Linked DNA regions of Homo sapiens: regions 2 and 3 are each reported to be linked to region 1. The links are microRNA targets in miRTarBase. Many come from high-throughput screens and were not tested one by one. Region 1 holds a microRNA gene; each other region holds the end of a gene's coding sequence.
What was found. The annotated mature microRNA hsa-miR-590-3p reads UAAUUUUAUGUAUAAGCUAGU and lies in region 1 at 2,257-2,277, shown strand. An mRNA with a match to its seed (bases 2 to 7 or 8) in the 3' UTR can be bound and repressed. Matches are read on the target gene's strand: a 7mer-m8 pairs with bases 2 to 8, a 7mer-A1 pairs with bases 2 to 7 and ends in A, and an 8mer does both.

Region 1 (7,201 bases):
TATTATACACAGGGCAAGGACGCTGGGGGAGAGGGGATGCAGGGTGTAGTGCCAGCATCTGGGGAGTAATGAACTAGATTTAGACTCCAGACAGCAAGGAAGGGGCAATGTCAGACCCCTGGCATCAGGGACACAGGTTGTCAGTAACAGGTACTTGGACCCAGGCTGCCTGTCTTTTAATTAACATTCAGAGAAGAATGCCCTGATTGCCAAGGATATATTTTCAGCTTTGTGAAGCAAATTTTATGTCAGTTACCTGAGTAGTAAGTTAAATCGGCACTTTAAGCCTCTTTCTTCAGAGCATTTTAGGTACCAAGTTTGAAATCTACGAAATCTAATCCTCACTTAGATTAAATAGTCATTCAGAAGTCAGAAGAGCTCTGCAGATGGCCTGAGAAAGGTTTGAATATTATGGTTAAAACATTCAAGAAGAAAGCTTTCTAGAAACGCAGCTGCTATTTCAGTGCATGTTCAGTTAGCATTTTCTGACTGATAAAATAGAATTGAGAGGGAGGAATGCCAGTCAGGGTTCTATCTATTGAAAGGCTCTCCTAGTCTGCCATCATCTAGACAACAGAATGGTAGTTGTGACGTGGAGAAGTAGTATGAATAGGATCTTCCCACATCTTTAACCCAGAATTACTTGAGGAAATCGGGGTCTTCTTTTCTTTTCCAGGATTCTGCTATGTAGAATTCGATGAAGTGGATTCCCTTAAGGAAGCCTTGACATACGATGGTGCAGTAAGTATCCTCGGGTTTTCTCTGTCATAGCAGTTGAGATTGTTTTCTTTGCCAATACTTACACTATTTTCCCTTTATCATTAGCTGTTGGGCGATCGGTCACTTCGTGTGGACATTGCAGAAGGCAGAAAACAAGATAAAGGTGGCTTTGGATTCAGAAAAGGTGGACCAGATGACAGAGGTGATTGGTTCTTCTAAAGCTGAACATCATAAAGATTTGCAGTATGCCTACCAATTCCAACTCGTGAACGTTCCTAGTAGAACTCGATTATCTCATAGGTGTGATAGGTTCTCGTGAGCTCTTAAAAGTTTGCGTAAAATCCTAGAAAGAATGGCTGATGCTTCTGCAAGCCTGGCGTTTTTTGTTTTCTGTTGGAAGCAAAAGCTCTTAAAATGATTTCATTGAACCTTCCATCACTTGAGTTGTATGTCTTCCAAATGAATTTTTCCATGTTTGCGCAGCAAGGTAATGACACGACCTCAACTTTATCTTTTTTGTGTATCCTCAGGAATGGGTAGCTCTCGAGAATCTAGAGGTGGATGGGATTCCCGGGATGACTTCAATTCTGGTATCAGTATTTAAAGTATCACCACTTAATTTTTCCTAGGAGCCTTGCTGCTGTTCTCTGTTTCTTACGAGTAGCCCGCCTGGCCGGACTACTTATTTAGTTCCTTTAACAAATACAACTCTCCTGCAGGGTGCCCAGGCATGCAAGTAAGCCTCTGTTAGAGCCTGTGGGGGCAGGACTTGAGCCCCATGCACCTTGTGTGGTCACCTTTGTTAGCCTGCAGCTCCTTGGATGTGTACGGGCCTGGGTCCTTGAGCTCGCTCAGCAGTCTTTCTCAGACTCTAGCCCAGGGAAACTCCTCTGTGGTTTTGTGTATGGCACCAAGAGAAGTACTGTTCCTTCTGGAAAACATAGGATAGAGGTTTGGGTTCTTACATGGTGAAAGGTAGTCCTGATGGCCCTTTTTTTTCTTGGAGGATTGTGGGGAGGTCCAGTCCCTTGATGGTGGACCTGATGCACTTCGCCGTTCTCTTTCTTAGCCAACCCAGGCAGAGCAGCTGGTGGTATAGCACAAAGCATCAGTCCACACGCCAGGCCTCTGCCCTGCAGGGTGATTTTAAGCATTTTTATCATCTTTACTTTCTGTTTTTAAATTACAAAAGTATAATTTTTTATATATGCACATGATAAAAACTTCAGTTGTAACCCAGAAAGGTAGGAAGAGAAAAACAAATTTGTTTTCTTTCCCGCAAACTTGGGATGTGCTGTCAATGCTGTGCTGTATAGAACGTCAGCACCCTCCCCCCATCAAAACAAAACCGGTGTAAAGTAGTGGGTGAGTATGGGAGGGACTGGTGCACGCTGTCTTGTGAGTCTGAGATTTTTAAAAACTCAGCTTTGGCTGAACAGGTGACGACTACCTGTTGAATAATATAGTTCTTAAAAGTCCTGTAGCCAGTCAGAAATGAGCTTATTCATAAAAGTGCAGTATGGTGAAGTCAATCTGTAATTTTATGTATAAGCTAGTCTCTGATTGAAACATGCAGCAGCTGTCTTCTTAGAGCCAACCAGCAGCTCAGGGAACGGCCTTTCCCCTGCCAGTTTGGTATTCGCAGGTGTTATAGAAGTTGCCCACATACTAACGTCTTTCTACCCTTGGCTTAGCTTGGCCACTGGCGCTCAAGCAGAGACACAGTGAACACGGCCATGGCCTGGCCGCCACCAGTTCTGGTGGGAACTGCAGTGTTTTGGTGACATCTCAAACCCTATGTGGGCTCACTCGATGGAGTAATGGCTAATTTGATACTTTATACGTTATTTGCGAGAGTAGATCTTTTTTACTTTTTAATAGGATGGTGCTATTTTTTTTAATGATACCTGCTCATGTAAAAAACAAAATAGAGCAACAGAAAAGTACCAAGAAAGCAAAAACATTTCATCATCAGAAATAGCCAGTGTTAAACTAAGCTTTGTAAAGAAAACTCTGAAGATTCTCATGAATAGTTTGCTTCCTAGAAACCCACCAACAGATTTTTTGTTGTTGTTTTTTTTGAGACGGAGTCTTGCTCTGTTGCCCAGGCTGGAGTGCAGTGGTGCGATCTCGGCTCACTGCAAGCTCTGCCTCCTGGGTTCATGCCATTCTCCTGCCTCAGCCTCCCAAGTAGCTGGGACTACAGGCACCCACCACCACGCCCGGCTAATTTTTTGTATTTTTAGCAGAGACGGGGTTTCATCATGTTAGCCAGGATGGTCTCGATCTCCTGACCTCGTGATCCACCTGCCTCGGCCTCCCAAAGTGCTGGGATTACAGGCATGAGCCACCGCGCCCGGCCCCCACCAACAGATTTGATGAGAGATCCTTGTTCATCTGCTTCACCAGCGTGGTGTGAGCTATTTGTTTCACGCTAGACATTGGTGGTCGAAATCATTTAATCTCATAGTAAAGGGTGTAAATTTACTTTGTACTCACGTGGAAAGGTACACTTCACAGTTTAGTTTGGGGGAAACGTGAAGTTAAATGTTTTAATACTAACTAGGCTTGTTCACTGAACTGTGTAATGTGGGTAAAATACTTTGTAAAGGACCTTATACTCGACTGTATGCCTCCCAGTGTATTTCCCCTAAAGCAGTGCTCTTATTGGTCTAAATCTGTTCAGACTTGCTTTCATTACTTGGTTTGTTAAAATTTATTATTTAACTCAGTCTCTGAACTGGGTGTGAGATCCCTTGGTTTCCAAAACCCTTGCCACCTTTAAAGAATAGAAATCGGCCCCCACCACAGGTGATGCAGTCAGCGCTTATCATTGGAGGTGGTTCTGTGGAGTTGCTAGAACACTGAATGAGCCCGTGCGGTGCTGCTCCTGTGTGCTACAGATCACAACATTTTCGTCAGCTGATCATACCTAACATTGCTTTATGTGACTTTTTTTTTTTTCTTTTTTTTTTTTTTGAGACAGAGGCTCACTCTGTTGCCCAGGCTGGAGTGCAGTGGCATGATTTCGGTTCACTGCAATCTCCGCCTCCAGGGTTCAAGCGATTCTCCTGCCTCAGCCTCCCAAGTAGCTGGGATTACAGGCGCACACCACCACACCCAGCTAATTTTTATATTTTTAGTAGAGACGGGGTCTCTCCGTGTTGGTCAGGCTGGTCTCGAACTCCCAGCCTCAGGTGATCTGCCCACCTCTGCCTCCCAGAGTGCTGGGATTACAGGCGTGAGCCACCACACCCAGCCTATGTGACCTTGATTTTAAAGACGCCTCATTTAATGTTAGTGTTGATTCATTTAATAGTGTTAACATTGAACTCAGGGCCAGCTGTAGTAAGTAGTCTGTGGTGCCATCATTTCAGCCTGTTAGAAAGCTCATCCCACACCGGTTTTGTCTGTAAGACACCTGACAGCCAGCCTGCACTTAAGAACAGCAGACAGCACTTCACACTGCACCTGGGGCCACTTCAGACAGCGATGTCACCAGAAAAAGCCCAAAGGGCAAAACACCCGACACTCATCGTGAAAAGACTTGACAGCTAATAACTGAAACAGGCAGAGCATTATCGTTTTCTGCCTCAGCTGGGATCGTCGCATCTGTGCAGGTCCAGGACTGACTGGAGAAATGCTGCTGGTATCTAGCTTGGGATTACACATGAATTTTAGCGACTGGGTGGATTTGCAAATATGGGATCTGTGGATAATGAGGATGACTGTATAGTGCATACTGCGGGCTCTGGGGGTTCTTCTCAAAGACAAGCTCCCTGAAAGCTTGGAGCCTTGGCACCACTCTCGCAGAGAGTAGCAGTGGCACCCCCTGAGTGCGCAACCAACAGCAGCAAGCTCATTTGTTTAATTATGGTTTAACTTCTTTTCGCCAGTTTTTTTTTTTTTTCCTTGAGACAGAGTCTCACTTCATCACCCAGGCTGAAGTGTAATGGCACGATCTTGGCTCACTGCACCCTCTACCTTCCAGGTTCGAGCGATTATCCTGCCTCAGCCTCATGAGTAGCTGGAACCCCAGGCGTGCGCCACCATGCCCAGCTAATTTTTGTGTTTTTTGTAGAGAGTGAGTCTCACTGTGTTGCCCAGTCTGGTCCTGAACTCCTATACTCACCTCCCACCTCAGCCTCCCAAAGTGCTGGGATTACAGGCGTGAACCAGTCTTTTTACCAAATTTTAACATCAGTAGGTTATACAGTTAAAGTTTAGCTTTCACTGAAGTACAAGCCTGAAGGCCCCTTAAGACCATTGAGAAAATACTCTTTCCTCCTACACACCAGTGGGAATTCAGCATTTCTAAATGAGATGCAGTTTACTTCTGCCAAGAGCCCACTTAGCAGGCACACAAATGAATGGGGAAAGAACGCTTTGCCCCCACAGGAGGCGCCGGTGGGGGTGAGGCGCTGTGCTCTCTGCTCATGCCCCTCTGTGTAGGGCATGGCCAATTTCGGATAACTGCTTTGTTTACCACACAGGTGCTTTGCTTGTAGAATGGCCCACACCTAAAACGCAGCCAAAACAGGAAAATTGGGACTTTGTGTTTTTATTTTGTCTTCATATAGCGTTTTCTTGTGATTTTTGTGTTCTGAGTTGTAAATACTTCTAAATTTCAGGTTTATCTTTTAAAATAGCTGTATAGATTTCTATTAGAAAATAGAGTTCAACCTGCTTTGAGGCTTTCTTGTTTTGCTTAAGCCGTATTAAAATACAGTTTCGTGGTATTAATATTTTTCTACTTTTCATGCAAGCTGAGCATGTAAACAGCTCGTTTGTTTGCTCTCCTAAGATCTTGATTCCTTTTTCTTTGGGAAGTCTGTTAGCGCTGTCATTACTCCACACATTGGCATTTGGACCCACTTTTAACACACTTTATTTTGGAGAGACTTCAGATAGTGGACAAACTAAAGAATTTAAAATGAAACTCAAACAATTCCCAGAACATTATTCTATAAGCAGCTTGGAGACGATAGTTTGAAAAGTAATTCAGTGTCCTGTTTCTTCCTCAGGCTTCAGGGATGACTTCTTAGGGGGCAGGGGAGGTAGTCGCCCAGGCGACCGGCGAACAGGCCCCCCCATGGGCAGCCGCTTCAGAGATGGCCCTCCCCTCCGTGGATCCAACATGGATTTCAGAGAACCCACAGAAGGTACGGGCTCATGTGTCAGTGGAGGGCATCTTGTCCTGATGGGATGATCATGGCCGGTTCACACCCCGTGGGGACTTGGCGTTCTACGGCACACAGAGTTGTCGGCATAGATCCCCACGTTCTCTGGAATAGCAAGTTCACCTTGGTCATTAGAGCATCTGCTGTTGGGGTAGCAGGCCAGGTGAATTTTAGAAAGTGGGCTGGTTTGCTGACAGCAACATCAGCATGGTCGTTTTGCTGGATATGGAATGGGATCCACACTCTGACAAACTCTGCTTTTTCTCCCCCAGAGGAAAGAGCACAGAGACCACGACTCCAGCTTAAACCTCGAACAGTCGCGACGCCCCTCAATCAAGTAGCCAATCCCAACTCTGCTATCTTCGGGGGTGCCAGGCCTAGAGAGGAAGTCGTTCAAAAGGAGCAAGAATGAGCCTGCGGTTGGGAGGGAATGGGGCGTGGGGGGTTAGAGCAGGACCACAGCCTGGTGAGTCCCCGGGCAGCCGTCCTGCAGCCGCCACTCCTGCGCCTGCCATTGGCCTCCTCACAGCGGAAACACAGCTTGTGAGTGCATGTCAGCTGTTAACAAGTGGTTTTTAGTACATTCTGGGCTTTGCTGTATCTATCTAGTGCCTGTTTGTGCGTTTTTTTCTTTCTTCCGCTGCTTCCCCATTTTCCTTCTGTCCTTTTTCTCCTGCTCCTTGTTTTCCCAGCAGCACATGGGGTTCCTCGGAGGAGCAGAGGTGGCCGCCGTGGGGGGGCGTTTGGGCTGCGGTGCTGCGTCATTTTTCCTTTGCTTTCTCTTTACTTTAGACACTGGCCCAACTCCAGGCGTTTCCTTTCATTCCCTCAGTGCTTCTCTTCTGACCTGCATGTTGAGTTCTGTATTGCTGGGGCTTCCAACAAAAACCAGAGTCACTGACAGAGGGAACAGCAGAGACCTTGTTGGTATTCAGCTGTGATGGATATAGAGAATCAGAGGCACCTTGTTTTCACAACTAGGATAAAAATATCTGCAGGGTCCTTTCCATTCCTATTTAGAGGGAGTCCTGGCTCCATGACCCCCTCCCGAGTGGACTGTCCAAGCAGATAGGCTCACACGAGAAACAGTGAGGCTGAAAGGGGGGGCTATGGAAGAGCGGTAGGGAGTCCACGGAGAAGATGCAGTGAATGCTTGCATGCATTCACACGTGTGTGTGTCCCAGCTAGTTCACTCCTTTCGCCGTGCGTGGTGGAGGCTGGCCTCTCTGGCTGGGTGCAGTGAATGGCCAGCGGGTTTCTTTTCTGCTGGGCCAAGGCGCTTTGGGGGTGGAGGGGGTGGT
Region 2 (7,201 bases), not on the chromosome of region 1:
GTTCTTAAATCGAGATCTGGAGGTAGATGGACGCTTTGTAACCCTCCAGATCTGGGACACTGCAGGGCAGGAACGTTTCAAGAGCCTTAGGACACCCTTCTACAGGGGAGCAGACTGCTGCCTCTTGACCTTCAGCGTGGATGATCGGCAGAGCTTCGAGAATCTTGGTAACTGGCAGAAAGAATTTATTTACTATGCGGATGTGAAGGACCCTGAGCATTTCCCCTTTGTAGTTCTGGGTAACAAGGTAGACAAAGAGGATAGGCAAGTGACTACTGAGGAGGCACAAACCTGGTGCATGGAGAATGGGGATTACCCTTATTTAGAAACTAGTGCCAAAGATGATACTAATGTGACAGTGGCCTTTGAAGAAGCTGTCAGGCAGGTGCTGGCTGTAGAGGAACAGCTGGAGCATTGCATGTTGGGTCACACCATTGACTTGAACAGTGGCTCCAAAGCAGGGTCTTCGTGCTGTTAAAGATAGGGAGCCTTTTAAAAATGTGCCCCAAATTGATCAGTCAGTAGTGTAAGAATAACTGTGCCCCTCTAAGAGTGCACACACACGCACACAAGAGGGTAAGAGACAAGGTTCTGATTGTGAAACAGAGCCTTTCAAATTGAAGTGTAGATTGATTTAAAAAAATTAAAAATTAAAAAAAATGAAGCTCTATCAAGCCAAGTGTATTTTGCGTGATTTCTGCTATTTCCCCTTCTTGTGTGTCTCAGGACATATCAGAAAATTTTAGTCCTGAGACAGTTAAATATTTTTTAAATCACAGTTTAAACCTAGAACCCAGCTGCATGAAGGAGTTAAAGAGCTACAACTATTTCTTAAAGTGTTCCATTAATCAACTAACAAATGTCACTATCAGACTCTTGCCAAGCAGTTTCTGACATTTCTGCCAAAGGGGAAAAAAATCAGACTTTGAGCTGTATTACAATAAAAATAATAATGCAAATAAGGATTCCTAGGCTTGAATTAAAGAAGTTGTAATGATTAGGAGTGCAAAAGTATAATGATATACACTGACTTGTTTAAATCCTTATGTATGGTTCGCTCCCATCTGAGCTTTTCAAAAAATCCCATCTCAATAAGAGATACTCTAATGACACTGGCAATTGATTATACTTCTTGTGTTTGAAGTCATAGGATACTAGTGAATGGATTATGCTTAAATATGCCAACCACCTTTGCAAATAAATGGTTGGTCTGCTTTTAATTCCTAAGTCTACTTTTGCTGCATAGAGATGTTGCTTCTCTGACAACCTCTTACCAATTTAGCAATGCTGCTTAGTATATGAATTTGGATGCAGTGCTCTCTGCTCATCATTTAGATGGTCCTTTGATCCAACATGCTGGGCTCATGGAGAAGGCTTCATAAAAGATTGGGGGATAATGAACTTTTCTCACAAGGCTCCTTAACTCAAATATTTATTGCAGAAGAAGGAACTGGTTTCTTATATGTTGCACTGTATGTTCAACTAGCCTAATTAGGACATTGAAAGTGACAGAAGAGCAGATCTTAACCCAGTGTTAGAATGAATTTCCCATAAACAGAGTTGTCCAACAGTGGAATGGACTGCCTTAATAGTGAGCTCCCTGCCTCTGAAAATATTCACTGGATGACCATCTGTTAGAATACCATAAAAAGATTTTCTGTGCTGGCTACATGTTCAATATAAAGTCCTTTCTGGCTCTAAGTTCTATGAATATATAAACTACATCAGTGCCATGCTGTGGTTAGATTTATCTGATGATAACAGCTAAGACTATGGAGAGGGACTTTAAAAATTCTCAAACCATTCTGTGATCAATCTTTAACAGCAACTACATAGCTCTTCCTTTTGCTTTTGCACTGTGGCAGGAAAAATTCTTGAGCTCTGAGTAATCTTTATGTGACTGATAAAAAACATCTTAAAGCTCCCATGTTAAAATATAAAAATGGTTTGACAATTTTTGATTACCATGACTGTCAGTTATATACTATATTATGAATATGCAGTGTGGTTCTTGTTGGTTGATCTGTTTACCCTGCATAGATTTTAATCTGTACTTTAAAACATCTATGATAAAAATAGTGACAGACAGAAATTACCCCAAAAAGAGACCTAGGCCAGGAAGGGGGTGGGAGCTTTCATAGGAATACAGCCTAGAACTCTCCATTGTAGCCACGTATGGAATCAGCCTTACTTACATGTAGGACCTTTGTGCTTTAAGAGCTCTGGGACATATTGGCCAAATAGAAAAGAAGAGGACAGTATTTCAACTCAGTCATACTCAATATTTCCAATTAAGATATAATCCTGACACCATTGTTCAATTAACTTTGACGCCAGAAGTCAAAGCCAGAACTGGGACCCCACAGCTCTTAAGTACTGGTCCCTATCCTGCCTATGCCTATAGCCAGCCACACTGGTTTCCAAGTTCTGTGATCATTTTGCTACAATCATGTTAGGGTGAAAATCTGTACGTCAGAACTGTTAAATGCTAATTATTTTTAAGTGCATGAGACCTGGGGCCTTCTCTTTCTACTTGCACTCTGCTTATACTAGTTTCTATTTGTAGATCTCAGGCCTTCATCATAAAGACCTCTATCAACTCACAAAAGTATTTGTCTCTATTAGAGTGGCATGTGGTCATTTGAGTAAAAAAAAAAAAATTACATGGGTATCGGATTCATAGGCATCCTGTCCATCTAAGACAAGTGTTAATTTTATTGGCCCATCAGCTGGAGCCCCTTTCCTCTTAGCCATACCATTGTTTTCTACCAAATTACCACTCAATATCTTAATGAAAGCACTCAACATTAAGTGACATAAACAGTGGCATTTGGGTAAGCAACACTCAGTGGGGTGCTGACATACAGTTTGGGTAAGATTAAAAAACACCAAAGGCTGAAATCTGTGAGTACCAAGAACTGTGCATATAGGTTTAGAAATTGACTGTGTACCCTAGAATGTGCAGTGTAATATTTTCAATAGGTGTTTTTTTAAAGAACACTAGATTTTTGGAATAATATATTTCTAATTAGGACTATACTGTTTTTCAATGGTCTGTTAAAACATCATACAGAATATTTATTTAGTTTATTGTCATGTATTGGCTAACTTTCAGGGGCCTCAGATTCCATATGTCTTCAGTGGATTGATGAATATCAGGTTAATTTGTGCCTGCCCCAGCCATCTCTACTTTATTCTGAGGTATTCCACAATCCTCTTGTTGCAGGTGCTGCTAAAAAAAACTCAAAATTGTGTATCAAATATTTTCTTTCAACTGTAAAAAATCATCTGTGTTAAAGTGAATAAAAAGTGCATTTTGAATAACCAGCACACAATGTTTGTGTTTATTCCCTCCCTTTCTCTTTTTGAGAAATTGGTGGGTGTGATGGACAGTACTTATTAATCAAGTCACTCTTTCAGGCTGCACTGGATGTGGCCTCTGGATCATGTTTCATGTGGTACTCCAAGCAGCCACTATCTAGTGATCAGATATTTCTATACTGATTGTGAAGCAAACTCTAAAGATTGGGGCAGGGAGGTCCTTTTTATTTTATACCACTTTCTTTCTATTTATTTAGTTATTAGAGACAGGGTCCCTCCATTGCTCAGGCTGGAGTGCAGTGGCGCAATCATGGCTCATAGCAGCCTCAAACTCATGGGTTTAACCACTTTCTAATGCATGACGTGTATTGGGACTGGAAATTGAATCTTAACTTTCCACTTTATTTCTTTATTATAATTTAAAACCATTACTTAATGGATACAATGTACACTATTCTGGTGATGGGTACACTAAAAGCCCAGATTTCAATCTGCAATATACCCATATAACAAAACTGCACTTGTGCCCCCTAAATTTATACAAATAAAAGAAAAAATATTATAATAAACAACGTTGCATAAAAAATAAGATAAATGTTAAACCATCAAAAAATATAAACAGAGTAGACATATTCCCTTTATTTTCCTGACTGGTGAATTGTCCAGACCTTAGGAAAACATGAAAATATAGGTGAAACAAATAAGAAAAGCAAAGAATAATTTTGTTAAATATTCTGTTCTCTTGCCTCTCACATATTGGATTTTAAAGATACATTAGCACCCAATGGCTTGAATATACATAATGGCGGTTTTAAAATTATGGACACAAATCTTTCCACAGCATATATAGTTTCATTACATTGATTCCATCTGCCACAGATTTCACTCTCTTCTCTCTGTCTACTTTTGCCTGTTGCAACTTTGGGCAGTTGAAATTGGGGGTGGGGAATTTGTTGGGAAACAGATTTTTTTTTTTTTTTTTTGCCACATGTACCATTTCCATCTCTGAGGATTATAATTTAACACATTATCAGACCATGCTTCAAATGCAGCACCCCAAATCATTTTGACTAGTCTATAATGATGCAACTTTTAGAATATAGAAAGTCATAGATTTATAAGCCACTTAATAAGGATTTGCTCATTTGTAACTGATTATTTTTTTTTTTGAGACAGGGTCTCGCTCTTTTGCCCAGGCTAGAGTGTAGTGGCCTGATCTTGGCTCACTGCAACCTCCACCTCCTGAACTTAAGCAGTCCTTCCACCTCAGCCTCCTGAGTAGCTGGGATTACAGGCATGCACCAGCATGCCCAGCTAACTTTGTGTGTGTGTGTGTGTGTGTGTGTGTGTGTATGTGTGTGTGTGTGTGTGTGTGTGTGTGTGTTTGAGACAGGGTCTTGCTCTGTTGCCCAGGCTGGAGTGCAGTGGCCTGATCTTGGCTAACTGCAACCTCGGCCTCCCGGACTCAAGCGATTCTCATGCCTCAGCCTCCCTAATAGCTGGGATTACAGGCGCCCGCCACCACACCTGGCTAATTTTTGTATTTGTTGTAGAGACAGGGCTTCACCATGTTGGCCAGGCTGGTCTTGAACTCCTGGCCTCAAGTGATCCACCCACCTGGCCTCCCAAAGTTCTGGGATTACAGGTGTGAGCCAATGCACCGGGGCCCATAACTGATATTTTAAAAACAGAATGCCAACTTCCTGTCTTTAATGTTTTTCTGCCTCATTCATAACCCAGTGGGAAATCTCCTCATGATGTCTTAAGAAACAGTACGGTCTCATTTTTTGGAAATGGTTTGGCGATAGTCCTTCCAGAAACAGGAAGGTGTGGAATACATAATTTGTCTTCCATCTTGTAACTGTAGTTTTAAAACACACTGGAAAATCGAGGTATCAATTTGAGTAATTTCAAGCTGGGAGGTGGGATGGACATCTCTACTTTCATTTGAATTACCCAAAGTAGATCTTGCAGCAATTTTTTTTCCTCAGTGATCTAGATAATCATTTCACTTTTTTTCTCTCTTTGCTGTGGAAATGTAAAATTTACTACAGTGCAGTGTTTTTCTTACACTTGATTTTAGGGCAGATAAACTGTAATATACTGTCTTAGCCCATTTGGGCTGCCCTAACAAAATACCATAAGCTTGGTAGGCTATAAACTACAGAATTTCATTTCTCAGCTCTGGAGGCTAGGAAGTCCAAAATCAAGGCATCCGCACATTCAGGGTCTGGTGAGGTCTTGATTTCTGGTTCACAGATGGCACCTTCCAGCTCTGTGGAAGGGGGAAGGGGTTTCTCCTGGGCCTCTTTTATAAGGACACTAATCCCATTTATGAGGGCTTCACCCTTGTGACCTAATCACCTTCCAAAGGCCCCATCTCCTTATAATGCCATAACCTTGGGGGGTTAGGATTTCAACCTATGAATTTTGGAGGGGGACAAAAAGATTCAGAGCATAGCATACACCTTTTGATAAAACGTTAATGTGCATGATTTGGGATATTCACTAATGTTTTCTTTTTCCAAACTGGTCATTTTAATTTCCTCAAGTTTCCATCACCAAAAGAGCTCTCATTCTTTACTACTTTCTCTTTAAGAGAAGGAAGGGATAATGACAAAAGCTAGGCATGTTTATGGAATAAAGGAAAAATTATTAAATGCCTTCTTACTGATATGCTTGCCAAAACTGGTGAGCAAGGATCTCTTATTCTGCTAGTGATGGTAGTGGTAATAATGTGTGAAAGGGTTTTTTTTTAAGGGGGCAAGAAGTTACTTAATATTTTCCCAGTGAAAATAAGCATCTTCACAGCTCAAGATGTGGCGTCGTCACCTGTAGTCATATAGAAACTGCTGCAGTGATCTTTGTGTCTTCATAAATCTCTTTGCCTTCTCCAAGGAAACACAGAGAATGATGATTCAGTTATATATAAATGTCTTTTTAAACAGTGGGTTTTGTGTGTGCAAGCATGTGTATTTTTAAGTAATCTGTCAGTTCCTTTCGTGCTGTATGAACTATGGGTAAATGTATAATGGTCTCACTATAACACTCCTGAATTTTAATCAGACCTGCCAAGCTGTGCCACATCTAGTTAACTGATTGATAAAAAGAATTGGGAAATGCTGCCTTAATGAAAGAAATAGCTCTTAATTCAACATTAGCTATATTGATTAGAGTAAAAATACAAATCACACTTTCCTGTGGTGCATTCATGAGGAAGCAAGAAACAGGCTCATATCATCTCTTTTCTCTTACGTTGTTCCTGGCTGCCTTAGAAACGACATATCCAAGGGTGTGTCCTGTAATATATTGCTCAACATAGAGTCTGTTAATAGATGAACAAGTGCCAGTAGCCTCTGAGTTCTCTCTTTTTCCATTTGTTCCCTGCTAGAAAACTTAGAGTGACCGATAAATGCTTTAAAATGTTCTTTTTTTCTGATTACAAAAGCCATACACATCCACCGTAGAAAAATGAAGTAATGAAAGAAATAGAAAAGCAAGATTTAAAAAATTAAAGTCATCTGTAATGTAATCCTATTAACCTGAGATAAGCAGATTTTAACATTTTAGTGTAGATTTTAATATATTTATGTATTTTTAAAATTGATTTGATACTGCACACACTGTAATCTTTTTTACTTAATATATATCTATAGTACTTAACTTTTCTCTAAGACATATATTCTTCTAAGATTATATTTGCTGTTTGCATAATATTGTATTGAAGGGTTTACCACAATTACCCATATTGCTAAACTTTTAATAAAACACTTATTGCTAGACATTTAGGTTGTTTTACAGCTGCCTTCTTTTCATAAAATAAAGCATCAGTGAAGTTCCTTAATATCAATCTTAACTCTCACCTCTGTTTATTTCCTAC
Region 3 (7,181 bases), not on the chromosome of region 1:
TTTAAAAATAAACTTAGCCCTCTTCCTCTGCAAAGTCCAGAGACAAATTAAACTCTTTAGTTGCCATATTATTATTGTTCTTTTTCTCTGAAAAAAACCTAGAATAAAACTTTACTACAAAGGATATATATACAAGATAGTAATAAAATATGTCAATTTCTAAATTTGCTGTAGAAATATATGCAAGATAGCAATAAAATATGGCAATTTCTATATTTTCATATATTCTTGTTTCTGCTATATAGCCTATAAAGCAAGAGCAAAAAAACTCTCAGATTACTCATAAATATTTTAACTCTTCCAACTAGTAAGTGACATTTTGAACTCTATGAAGTTATCTTGACAAGATGAGAGAATTATTAGAAGACATTGCATTGGGATGGAATCTGATCATTTATCAAGATACTGTATTTGTTATTTTACCTTTTTTCTAAAAGTGCTTATCACATCAATTCCTTTGGCCAGATCAAAGAAATCAAACTGCATCTTGGGCCTTACTGTGGATTTGTTATAATAGTTGCTATTTGTTGGATGGTTACTGTGTGTAGAAACCATTCTGAGCAGTCATTTGCAGCAGCCTACACACTGTGCCAGCTACTCTTCTCATCACTTTACATACATTATCTCATTTCATCCTTATGGCAGCCTTATCCTCATGGTATAGTTGGGGAAAGTGAGACCAGCAAGGACAGGACACTGACCCAGAGTCACACAGCTACTTGATGGTGGAGCAGTAATTGGAACTCAGGTACTCTAGCTCCATACCCTAAATAGTCAATTGGGTTGCTATTCTGCAGAAAAAAAAAAAAAGTAAGTCTGTGTTATGCTGGCGTTTTACTCTTTAATTAGCTTCATTGTTTTCGGTTGGTGTTACTTTTCATCCTGGGAACACTTCATAGGAGTTTCTTTTCTCCAGGTACAAATAAGCACACACCACCAGCCTCTAGCAGAGTTTGAAGGAGGAGGAGGTCAGGTTCTCCCCTCTGGGGCTGGCAGGGGTAAGGATTTTAGGAGAAGGCACAAAGGTAATAGTGGCAATTGGTAACCTGGGTCCCTTGATTATAGTAGCAGCTCTGAAAGCTCCTTTCACTGGAAGGGTGACACTGACACAGCTTCCTAACTATAGAGCCTGCCCGGTATTCAAGTGTTATAGACTTTTCATAGCTTCTGATGAGACGTATTGTCTCCCAGCAATTTCATTTATTAAATAAGTAGTATTTGATTTTTCCCCAGAAAGAGACTCAAGTATTTTGCAAAGTTATGGACGATGCATAATGCACAAGACCTGCAGAAGTGGACAGAGGAGTTCAACATGGAAGAAACACAGACTTCTCTTCTTCATTAAAATGAAGACTACATTTGTGAACAAAAAATGGAGAATTAAAAATACCAACTGTACAAAATAACTCTCCAGTAACAGCCTATCTTTGTGTGACATGTGAGCATAAAATTATGACCATGGTATATTCCTATTGGAAACAGAGAGGTTTTTCTGAAGACAGTCTTTTTCAAGTTTCTGTCTTCCTAACTTTTCTACGTATAAACACTCTTGAATAGACTTCCACTTTGTAATTAGAAAATTTTATGGACAGTAAGTCCAGTAAAGCCTTAAGTGGCAGAATATAATTCCCAAGCTTTTGGAGGGTGATATAAAAATTTACTTGATATTTTTATTTGTTTCAGTTCAGATAATTGGCAACTGGGTGAATCTGGCAGGAATCTATCCATTGAACTAAAATAATTTTATTATGCAACCAGTTTATCCACCAAGAACATAAGAATTTTTTATAAGTAGAAAGAATTGGCCAGGCATGGTGGCTCATGCCTGTAATCCCAGCACTTTGGGAGGCCAAGGTAGGCAGATCACCTGAGGTCAGGAGTTCAAGACCAGCCTGGCCAACATGGCAAAACCCCATCTTTACTAAAAATATAAAGTACATCTCTACTAAAAATACGAAAAAATTAGCTGGGCATGGTGGCGCACACCTGTAGTCCCAGCTACTCCGGAGGCTGAGGCAGGAGAATCTCTTGAACCTGGGAGGCGGAGGTTGCAATGAGCCGAGATCACGTCACTGCACTCCAGCTTGGGCAACAGAGCAAGACTCCATCTCAAAAAAAAAAAAAGAAAAAAGAAAAGAAATAGAATTATCAAGCTTTTAAAAACTAGAGCACAGAAGGAATAAGGTCATGAAATTTAAAAGGTTAAATATTGTCATAGGATTAAGCAGTTTAAAGATTGTTGGATGAAATTATTTGTCATTCATTCAAGTAATAAATATTTAATGAATACTTGCTATAGATGATGGTATGTCCCATTGAATTTTGGTGTTTCCAAGTGTTTGGAAATTGTCATTTTTTAAGGTGTAATTATGAAATTAAGGTTACTGCTTTGACCAGCGCAATACACAGAAGTGAACTTGTTCATTTGGGACCTTTCTGTTCATTAACATATCAGGTGTATCATCTTCCCAGTAATGAGCCTTATAGCTTAGTTGATTCATAACAGTGCTCCCTTCCTGCAAATTTAGGGTAACACGTGCTCAACTGTGTCCCTGGGTTTTTTACAGCACTTACAATCTGGCTTCCCAGATCCATGTGTTCTTTTTGTTTCTAAATATATGATCTTGCACAAAAGCTCTCCATCCTATTTTCCTCTCTTTTATTATTTCTGCTCAGTTAAATGTCTTCCCCACATTTGATGGACATATTTTTAATTCCTTCTTCTGGATTATTATCTTCAGTGATCCCAGCAATGACCCCAGCCAGACACAGGAGTCAATACAGTGTCCCCAAGTTGTGGCTTCACTTTTGAGTCAGTCACTCTTTAGCTATCTGACTCTCAACCTTATTGGAGTTAGAGTGTGATGTAATTTGATTGATTCTACCACCCCTCCAGAAATATGAACGTATAGTCAGATTCTCAAAACTGTCAAAATAGTTAGTTGGAATGTACGCTTTAAATTTTAAAAAGAACAAAATTGTTCCAATACTCTATATAACTGTAAATGTCTTATATTTTTTCTAACAAGATTTCAAAGATAGTGCTGTAACCTCACCTCACAGGGAGAAAAGGAGATAACTCCAGGAATTTCATGCCCATGCCAGAGGGAGCTGCAGGGACCAGCAATCACTGGTAATGTCCAGGTGGACATCTGGAGCCACCTCTCCCTCTTGCTTGGTCCAGGCCAGCATCAACACTGAAGCAGGTAGGGGTTCCAGGAGCATTGTGTCCTGGCAGTGGCAGCACACAGTGTCTGGCAGCTGACAACGTGGAACTTTACAGGGTAGATTGTCCAGCATGATCAGGAAGCCAGCCAGGCGGCCAGCTTGAGGGAAGGCAGGCCTCCTCCAAGCTGGGGAAGAGATCAGCACAGCTGAACTGCATTTCCAAGTGAGACTCATCCCCAGCTGGGTTACTGAGATATTGGAGGAAACGTTGAGGCCAAATCCCAGTCATAAAGACTGCACAAATGCCATGGGGAGGTAGGCAGAAAGTTGCAAACAAGTGGGTTTGTATTTCAGATAACCATCTTGGGGCTGCAATTCTAAAGTTAGATATAATCACACAGGTGAGAATAGGGCTGCTGGTGCATGGCAAGCGCCCTCCACATTCCCTCTGGTACTGCATAGGCATGAGCCTGCAGGCTAAATGTCTTCCATACTTCAGACAGAGGCTAGGGGAGACAGGGCTGACTGGTGGCCAAATGTCAAGGAAAGTAACTTTTTAATACGATATATTCCTTTAAGTGACTTGTCCGTTTTTAGCCATCAAATTACAAATTAAGAGCTAGTGATTCTGCAGTAACACACACCAATTCCTCGAAAACCTTCTAAAGTCACACCAGTTTAATAATTCCAACCTTAGGGAAACAAAGCCAAACATATTTTAACAAGTTTGAACTTTGACCTTTCTATTGCTTCATCTCTCCTCAGTGCTGTTTATTCTATATAGTTTTTAAAATAGTGTTATTATATAACTAGTATAAAATATTTGAAAATCCATGGGACTATATAATTTAAAAAGAGAAAAAAGGAAAAATGAATTTTTAAAATTAAATTTTGTAAGGTAAAAATAAATTTAAAGGCTGGGCGTGGTTGCTCACACCTGTAATCCTAGCACTTTGGGAGGCCGAGGTGGGCAGATTGCCTGAGCTCAGGAGTTCAAGACCAGCCTGGGCAACTCGGTGAAACCCCGTCTCTACTAAAATACAAAAAATTAGCCAGGTGTGGTGGCATGCGCCTGTAGTCCCAGCTACTCGGGAGGCTGAGACAGAAGAATTGCTTGAACCCAGGAGGTGGAGGTTGCAGTGAGCCAAGATCACACCACTGCACTCCACCCTGGGCAAGAGAGCAAGACTCTGTCTCAAAAAAACATTTAAAGGAAAAAAAATATAAAAACCTCAGCATTTGAGTTACTTAATTTATCTCAATGTTTCTCAGTGCTGAATATGAAAATCAAATGATTCCCATTTGAATCATAGACTTTTGGACTGAGATCCAAGCTTAGTATTCTTTTATCAGCTTTATTGACATAGTTTACATACTGCACAATTTATTTAGAGTGAATAATTCAGTGGGTTTTTGTGTATTCACAAGCTTGTACAACTGTCACTACAATCAATTTTGGAACATTCTTAATCACCCTAAAAAGAAATGCTGTACCTATTAACTGCCAGTCTGCATTCCTCCCCAAGATCGTCAGCCCTAGACAACCCCTAATCTTCATTCTGTCTCTATAGATTTGCCTATTTTGGACATTTCATATGAATGGAACCATAGAATATGTGGTCTTTTGTGTCTGGTTTCTTTCACTTAGATGCAAGATTCATCTGTGTGTCAGAACTTCATTCTCTTTAACTGGTAAAAAGTATTCCATTTTATGTATACCTTACATTTTAATTTATCCATTCATTAGTTGATGCACATTTGGATTGTTTCTATTTCTAGCTATTATGAGTAATTCTACCATGAATATTTGTGTATAGGTTTTTATGTGACGAGGCATAATATTTTTTAAAAAGCTCCCCTAGTAATTCTGATGTGCAGTCAGGTTTGTGAACCATTAGTCTCAAAGATGACAGATGACTAAACAGTATTTTTAATTGAGTTGACAATCATTTGGTCTGTTTGTCCACTGCTTTATCTGTCACTTAGGGCAGAGTGTAGCATACTGTAGACCCTAATTAATATTTGTTAAAGTGGAAAAGAAAAACCAAACTCCTTCAGCTTAGAAACCCAATGAAAAGATGTTTCTTTTCATAATGAAGGCACCATTTCACTAGGGATTCAAGATCCATACAGAAGTGTGCTATATCTTTAGAAAAAAAAACTTTTTCAGACAATTTTTCCAAGTTTGTGCCTGTCGTCATCATGGTGATGGTGTTGGGGCTGGTGAAACACTGCCCACTGCATCAATTCCAGAGTAAAAACTAGATTGAATCCAAAATTTTCTATAAATTAGTGTTGACCTTTACTGAGTTCTGAGATCAATATTAATTACTGCTGTGCTTTGTAATTATAAAAGGGCTATTTGATGTTTCACACCAAGGATATGGGTGGAGAGAGAAAAGAACTTGTATTAACACCATCTGTGGTTTCTAACTTTGTAATTAAGGCCAATTCCTCTGTGGAACATTTTAGTTATTATATATCATGATTATTCGGTCTATTAATATCCAGGGAAGTACCACAGTTTGAGAGCCATTCATTCTGGTTTACTTGGGGAGTCCTATTCTATACCTGTTTTGCTGGCATAATTATTAAAAGCCTCTTTAACTCAAAAGTGTCCTGTTTTGGATAATAACTCATACAGTTACCCCAATTATAGGTGCTATTCCATGAGCACAGTTACTGACTTGCTACATTTTAAATGTCATCTAAAAAATTTTTCATTTTTTTCTTACCCATTGGATGAACCAGTTTTTCCCCTAAAGACCTGCCAGTTGTTTTTGCCTGTTCTTGATAAGTGCTTTGTATTGTGGCATTTAGAAGCTACAGCTCTGCTAATTGGTGTGTTAGAGCTTTACTACTTAATCTGTTGTTGAGGCTAAATCCCCAAAGATAACATGTCATCTGCCTCTTCTCCACGAAATCATGGTGAGGAATGTGCACCTACATGACTTTGTGAGACACGCAGCAAGACTGTCTTCTTGCAGAAATAATTATTCCTCAGGAGGAGGAATTGCCTCTGGTTCTTTTGTCCTTTGCTCAGATCCTCTCTTCATTGCCTTTGGCTATCTTTTTTTTATTTTTTTGACAAAACAGTATTTTATTTTCACATCAGAAAAGAAATATTGTCTGCCATTTTCACCTCTTTTTCAACCTCAAGCCCCTTTTTCTTAATCCTACTTCCAGAAAGCTCCCATTTGGAGGTAGGAATGTCTTGCCCTCTTATCAGAAGCACCAAAGGAGTTTCTTAAATGTGGATTTCTAGGCCCCGCCTTAAAGCTACTGAACCTGAATCTCTGAAGTTGGGACACAGAAATACCAGTGTTAGTTTCTGTCATCCCTTCATCACGTTCTCTCACCTTTTCCTTCCTCATATGGCCAATGATCTGGCCTCCAAAGAAATTTGTTAAAAATCATATTCCTTGGTTCATGACTGCTCTTTACGATTCTGTCTGATTTACTGCATCTGGTGTGGGGTCTAGGGAACTTCATTATTATTTTTAAAATAGACTATTTCTTAGAGCACTTTTAGATTCATCACAAAATTGAATGGAAAGCTCAGAGAGGTCCCACATACCCTCTGCTCAAACACACCACCTCCCTCACTATTGACATCCTGCACCGTGGTGGCATGTTTGTTACGGTTGATGAACCTACATTGTCACAACACTATCACCCAGAGTTCGTAATTTACATTGGGGCTCACTCTTGATGTTGTACCTTCTATGGGTTTGGACAGATTTCTAATGACATGTAATCACCATTATAGTATCACACAGAATAGTTTTACTGCCCTAAAAGTCCTCTGTGCTCTGCCTATGCATCCCACTCACCCCAAACCACTGGCAACCACTGATCCTTTCACTGTCTCCATAGTTTTGCCTTTTCCAGAATCATACAGTAGGTAGTCTTTTCAGACTAGCTTATTATTCACTTAATAACATGTACTCAAGCTTACTCCACGTCTGTTCATAGCTTGACAGCTCATTTCTTCTTAGCACTGAATAATATTC

Region 2: miRTarBase lists RAB9B as a target of hsa-miR-590-3p. Seed matches in the 3' UTR shown: 7mer-A1 at 640-646, 7mer-A1 at 647-653 and 7mer-A1 at 2,657-2,663.
Region 3: miRTarBase lists MSH3 as a target of hsa-miR-590-3p. Seed matches in the 3' UTR shown: 8mer at 1,446-1,453 and 7mer-A1 at 1,959-1,965.

Annotation. Positions count from the first base shown.
Region 1 is chr7:74,188,997-74,196,197 of GRCh38, forward strand. MIR590 (microRNA 590) reads left to right here and starts at 2,202; the gene lies at 2,202-2,298. It overlaps EIF4H (eukaryotic translation initiation factor 4H), which reads left to right. Exons shown (of 7, transcript NM_022170.2): 3 at 677-741; 4 at 826-922; 5 at 1,251-1,310; 6 at 5,745-5,882; 7 at 6,173-7,201. The coding sequence ends at 6,312. RefSeq lists an enhancer at 7,143-7,201.
Region 2 is chrX:103,818,456-103,825,656 of GRCh38, reverse strand. RAB9B (RAB9B, member RAS oncogene family) reads left to right here. Exons shown (of 3, transcript NM_016370.4): 3 at 1-3,330. The coding sequence ends at 478. Among named protein-coding and RNA genes, the nearest start is that of RAB9B, 10 kb to the left of the region's middle.
Region 3 is chr5:80,874,518-80,881,698 of GRCh38, forward strand. It overlaps MSH3 (mutS homolog 3), which reads left to right. Exons shown (of 24, transcript NM_002439.5): 24 at 1,234-2,298. The coding sequence ends at 1,345. Among named protein-coding and RNA genes, the nearest start is that of RASGRF2, 82 kb to the right of the region's middle.